Homo sapiens: one gene and its partner. Each later gene encodes a partner of the first gene's protein in a complex. Each region holds a gene or a part of one and is shown on either strand. Other genes may lie near its edges.

Region 1 (2,770 bases):
TTGATGTGTTCTGTATCTAGAGTTCAGGGGTTAATTACTTTCGCTGACTTCATCTACTAAGTAAGTCTGGGGACCTCTTTCTCCAGGTCCTCGTTTATCCCTTCTGAGACGTCTCCTTCACTTTCTGGAAGCTGTGGTTAGCCCAGATCCCATCTTTTAGTTCTCCAGACCAGAAAGACCCCAGGCTTTCCACTGCAGCCTTAGCTGTCCTACAGCTGCATCATGACTATAGCTGGTACTTAGGTTAAAAACATTAACCTTAGCTTGTGCCTGTCTCTTCCTCCGTATTTTATCTCCCATCCAAAATCTTTCTAGTTTTTCTTCAGTTTCCTGAACTCTCAGGTAGTTGTTTCTAGTATTTTGCTCAGAATCTATATTTATCATCTGTGGGAATGTTGGCCTTTAGATTATGCCACCCTATTGGAAGAGAAAATTTCATGTCTTTGCTTTGCATTTGCTGTGAGCTTACTTGAAATGCCAAAACCGCCACCACCACAATGAATCCTCTCTTCACATGGTTGAGGTTCTTCTTTAAGGTAACATTCACGTTGTACATACTGCTCATACAGGTATTTTTCTTAAATTTATTCTGTACAATAAATACAAATGTTCAAGCTGTCAGTGACGTAGTATATCTTAGGTTCTGGAGACTGACAAGATTTGTCCATGGGCCCTGACACTCCTAACTGTATTATCACCCTGAGCAAGTTTCCTAACTTTTCTGCTCAACTCACTCAATTCCTCGATTACACCATGCTGACAACAACAGTATTTACCTCACTAGGTTACTCTGAGGATTAAATATGACAATACATACAAATGAGAACAGCAGCTAATGTAAAGAAAGAGCTTGTTAAATATTAGTTAACTCATATTACTGCAGATGTGTGAAACAAATGTCCCCAATCCCCTTAATGTCTTCCCTCTAATGAAAAAAAGTTACAACAATTTAATACATGTTTGAGGGTTTTCAAAGATCAAGATTATACAAGACAAAAATCAGGAACGCACACAAGCAAAACATTTTTAGCAGAGAAAAGGAAATGAGTACGTAAGCCAAAATAGTCAAACTCCCAAATTATTTTTAAAACGTTGGCTAAAACAGCAATGAAGTACCACTTAATAACTAACTGTTAAATCAGAAATATTAAAATTAACAGCAAGTACTGACTAATTTGTATACTATGGTATACTTTAATATTGACAGTGTGAATTGGTAACTGTTTTGGCACAGTCTGTAATACATTTGAAAGGAAACAAAAAAACTATATTTGACATTGGACTTTCTGTAACTCAACATTTACAGCATTATTTCCTCTCCCCTCCACAGTGGACAGAACTAATTCCAGATTCAATCCTTTCCAATGTGTCCCATAATATCAATTACTGCATGTTTTCTGACATCTCATATGTATGGAGAATGAAGGGTGGGAAATGTCAAGCCCAGGGCCAGGAAGTACGGCCATATATCAGGGGAAGTATGATAATAACACTAAGGAAATAAGACTAAAAAATCAAGAAGAGATGTGGGGCCAAAATAACACATGGAAGATCAGATTACATCATGTCAGACCTTTCATGATTCAGTTTGGGGTCACTGTTCTAGTGATGACGTACCAAAAACTGTAGACAGTATTCTCATGGTGTTCGCTAGTGTCATCTTTCAAGTTCTAAAGGAATTTCATCCCTTTGAACTGGAAAGCGGAAGACAAATAATCATCCAACTTTTGAGTTATTTTGGTGGAACAGATGGATTGAGTTATTTATATTTATACATATATATATCAGACTCAGGGAAAAATAAATTTGGTTTAGTCTACTGGCACCTACATTCTTGTTTACCAATAGGTTGTTAATGACTGGATTATGAAAAGGCTGACAAAAATCTTGGAAAATATTAACAAACTTCAGATAAATTTGCAGCAGATAGTACCACGCAACACACCTCCTAAGCTTTGATTTAAAAATACTTACACAGCTTAAAAAAACAAAAACATTAAAGTCGTAGAGACCAATTATTAAGCGTATAGGAACATGATATTCATGTATCATTAAAACGTAGAGACCAATTATTAAGCGTATAGGAACATGATATTCATGTATCATTAAAATAAGGATTCTTTCAAGATCTGTTTCCTATCTCAGTCTAAATCAGGGGTCTGGAGTTGTGGCCTTAAAAAACTAGCCTCAAACGGCTCCATGCATGCATAATAGCTTTATATGTGTTCCCTTTGTTGGTCCAGTTACCTGATTTATAATTCTTCCTTACCTGAATGACTTTAGAAAACACATTAATATTGCCTTAGGAATTAAATCAATTAAACACTGATGATCAGCTACATTTATCATGTAATTTAATCTGCTTTTTTGTATATTAGCTTTTACATATAGAATCGGGTATCTCAGGATCCCTAATATATAAAAGACCCGCATAAGAAAAAAACATTTGATGATATGCATAAAATCACAACCACAATAATTGGACCATAATTAGACTAGTTAAGAGATGAGGAATATATGCTCATTTGTAAGCGATAAGTGATTATATAAAGAGAAAACATGGGTTAAGTAACACAGTAACATTAATTTTTGTATATAAACAAATTAGTTATCTCAAGTCCTTAAAAGTTTACATTTAAAAAAACAGGTCAAGATGAAGAAATAACTTTGTAGTTTAAACTTCCACATGTGCTCCTTTGGGTGGTTTTGCCTTGGATTTTGCTTCCTTTGAAATCTTTCCATTTTGACATTGAGTAAATCTGGCTACTGT
Region 2 (3,759 bases), on another chromosome or scaffold:
AGGTGCGTGCAGTGCAGTAGCTACACTTGGGGTCCCAGAAGAGCTGCCCCCTCCTGCACATTTCCAATGCAGTGTTCGTACTCTCGCTGATCTTCATCTCAAGTGCGGTCATTTTTATGTGTTGAATGAAATTAATACTTCCCCTCCAGGCTGGGCAGTTGTTAGCTCCCATTCTTGTCATTTCTATTCTTGCCTCAATTTTGTTTAGTATAGTTTTTGTGCTAACGATCTATTTTCCAAGTTTGTGCTCTCATTTGGGGCTCTAATCCCCTGAAGTAAGTCTTCTCTAGTTTGGGACTAAAAATAAGTTAAAGTACCATTACATGATTGCCTATGTACTTGGTGTATTTTTAAGACGAAGCGTTTGATTTCCCAGCTATAGCATAGGTCACAGAATTCATTTCAGAATCGAATGTCTGTGCTTTAGGTTTCTCCTCTAGTATTTTACTAATTTGTGCGATGACAGTGCATAGCCTCACTCCAGCGTGGGTGTGGCCGACGCATCTGCTCGCTCCCAGAAGAGGCAGGGACACAGACTGGCAGCTAGCCAGCCACTGATGATACTTGAGCCTTTGCTGGAGGACAGTGAGGTAACTGTGCCTCTCATCTCTCGTCCCACTCAGTATCATTCTGAAGGGAGTAAGGAATGCACTTGACCCCCTTCTAATCTCTCTTTGTGATCTTGCTATCCTCTCCAGCGCCCTTGCAGCAGTGTGCAGAAGATCGCCAGATCTGCCCTTCCCTGGCCGGGTTCCAGTTTACACAGTGGGACAGTGAAACACATAATGAGGTGTGGTCAAGTTTTAGTGGCTCATGGTTTCAGTTAGTTGGCTCAAGAGTGGTCCTGCCCAATGGGAACCAAAACTGTGGCATCATCTTTATTTAGCCAGGAGTACAGAAAATATTTCCTTTGGCACTTCTGTAGGGACAAAAACCCTGAGGGAGGAGGGTAGGGTTGTGAACCCCAGCAGGACTATTCTAGAGGTAAGTGAGTTCCAGGATCAGCTTTATGTCCTCTCTTCTGCTATCCTAGGGTAAGGCGGCCCTGGCATTAATCAGTGAACATTTATAATTAGATTTACTCTTGAATGTGGTTATCCCAGTGGCCTCGAATCTCTTAGGCTGCCGTCAAGCTTGAGGAATTTCCTGCTCTTTGGGGTTGAATCCCTTGGCACAGAGTTTCCTGAGAAATTGTCATGTGTAGAGCTTTCCTCTGTGTATTTTTAGCATGGCCCCCTTTAGCCTACTTACTACAATTTCCAAAATAAATGATCTCCATGGAAAACTGTTTTCTGCAAACATGTAGTTAATGGGTACAGAATCCTGTTTCATGTTTTACAAAATGTGCCTGACAACAATGCAGCTTCCTCCTGTGCTGCACAATATAAACTTCCCCCTCACTGTACTATCGTGAGAGTCTTGGCCCAGGCAGGCAGGGGATGGGAAAGGGAAGGGTGGCTCAGGGGAAGGAGGAGGCTGGAAACTGAAATTTAAGGGTGAGAAGGCTGTCCCTCCAGTGGTGATTTGGGGTGGTTATAGGAATGAGAATTACAGAACCCTCTTTTGTCCCTCCAGTCTGTGTCGGCCCTGGTAGACAAGTTTAAGAAGAATGACCAGGTATTTGACATCAATGCTGAAGTTGACGAGAGTGACTGTGGAGACTTCCCCGATGGGTCCCTGGGGGATGACTTTGATGCCAACGATGAACCTGACCACACCGCAGTTGGGGATCATGAAGAGTTCAGGAGCTGGAAGGAGCCCTGCCAGGTTCAGAGCTGCCAGTAAGGCTCTCAGAGTCCGAAAGTGTTTCTATAGGAGTTTTCCATTGGTTCTTTTTTCTTTTTCTTTTTTTTCTAATTAAAAAATTTTTCTTTCTTTTTTTTTCCCCCCCCAAAAATAGAGACGGGCATCTCACTGCATTGCCCAGGCTGGTCTTGAACTCTTGGGGCTCAAGCAATCCTCCTGCTTTGGCCTCCCAAGGTGCCAGGATTTCAGGTGTGAGCCACCATGCCTGGGCACTATCAGTTCTTAACAGATTTCCTGCTGGGGTGATTGAATTTGATGTCTGATTGGCTGGGCTGGTGTGCTGTGTCATACACATCAGCTGAGCTTTTCAGCTGAGCCTTTCTGACTCAGAGGAATCACACCTGGCTTTGAATGTCGGCTTAGCCACTTTGGTTATAAAACTGACATTGCAAGAGTTTGTAAGGATTAGAACAATGTAAAGCGTTTGGAACAAAGCACCTGGGATCTAGTAATTACGTCAATGTGGCTGTTGTTACCACGTGCATTTTGGTAGCAGAGAGCATGCTCCCTTTGTACACATTGCTTATAGTGTGGCTGTTGGTGACTCTAAGCCACCAATTTACCACCTGAAAGGTAAGCAAGTGGGGGTTAGGCAGTGTTGGGTTACCAGATGGGCAGACTGGGGACGAGCAAGGCAGGGAAAACAAAACCAACCAATAAATTGAGAATATTTGGAGGAGAAGAAGAAGAATTGGTTTAGTAATTAAATTTTTGATTACCCTAGTAAACATCATAAAAATAATCAGAACTTGGTTGGCCTTTATGTACTTAATAGGTTAGTATTGTTTTAATTCTAAATATGATTTGGAAGCAGGGTCTCACAACACTTTAATGTCATGGTCCTGTAAAGGTCTTCAATGGGCCTGGGGGTAGGAGATTTCATGAGATTAGAGTGAACAGTCCCTCTGTTAACTCCTATGTCTGTAACAGAGCTTTGCAGAACTGGGATTGGGGACAGCCAAGCTGGTTTTGAGTAAAACCTTAGAAGTTGCTTAGTATAATTTCCCGCTATGACAAAAATCTCTTCAAGACCCTGCTCGGATGTCTTTCCTAAGCTCATTTTGTCTGCCCTTGTGGGAAACGATTAGGCTGATAATGTCTTTTAAAGACATTATCAAGGCGCCACTGCCCATCCAGGCTCAGTAGCACCCTGCTCTCCGGAATTGTACTGTTCACATGGCTGCAATTTTGCCCCATTCTCATCGTGTCTTTTTTGTTTTTATGTTTTTTTGTTTTTTTTTTTTTTGAGACAGAGTCTCGGTCTGTCGCCCAGGCTGGAGTGCAGCAGCGCGATCTCTGCTCACTGCAAGCTCTGCCTCCCGGGTTCACACCATTCTCCTGCCTTAGCCTCCCGAGTAGCTGGGACTACAGGCGCCCGCCACCATGCCTGACTAATTTTTTTATTAGAGACGGGGTTTCACCATGTTAGCCAGGATGGTCTCGATCTCCTGACCTCATGATCCTCCCACCTCGGCCTCCCAAAGTGCTGGGATTACAGGCGTGAGCCACTGCGCCTGGCCATCCTGTCTTCTAAGAAGGGAGAAATGATAGGTTGATGGGATGAACTCTTAAAAACATCATTTTCAAATGTCAGAGAAAAGCTATCACTTTCCTTAAACAGTGAGGTGACATCTGAGGGACTGACAATAACAAAGGGCTTCCATGACTTTTATTTGGTTTCTGGAAGATGTTTTCTGCTGGTTATTTTGAACAAATGTCTCCACTTCTCTCCCCTATTCCAAACAGCACAAAATCTTAGACTCTATCCTACCTAGTACATTAGGCGTGGGAGGCTGCAGTTCTAGTCTCAGATTTTACCCATCCTTAAATCCCCTCCCCTTGCCACATCGCTGGCCTTTCCTGGGAATTCAGTGAGTGTTTGATCTGGAGTAGATCTGATCTTGCCGTTACTAGCCCTGAGATGTGGGGCAATGTTATCACCTTTTGCGGTCT

The links.
Region 2: SMC2 (region 1) and NCAPH share a complex: the UniProt entries of both Homo sapiens proteins name them as parts of the condensin complex.

What each region holds. Positions count from the first base shown.
Region 1 is NC_000009.12:104,139,220-104,141,989, reverse strand, and holds the end of SMC2 (structural maintenance of chromosomes protein 2), read right to left. Parts: coding exon 2,675-2,770; 3' UTR 571-2,674; downstream 1-570. UniProt on the Homo sapiens protein: Central component of the condensin complex, a complex required for conversion of interphase chromatin into mitotic-like condense chromosomes.
Region 2 is NC_000002.12:96,352,608-96,356,366, forward strand, and holds part of NCAPH (condensin complex subunit 2), read left to right. Parts: intron 1-698; coding exon 699-790; intron 791-1,575; coding exon 1,576-1,781; intron 1,782-3,759. UniProt on the Homo sapiens protein: Regulatory subunit of the condensin complex, a complex required for conversion of interphase chromatin into mitotic-like condense chromosomes.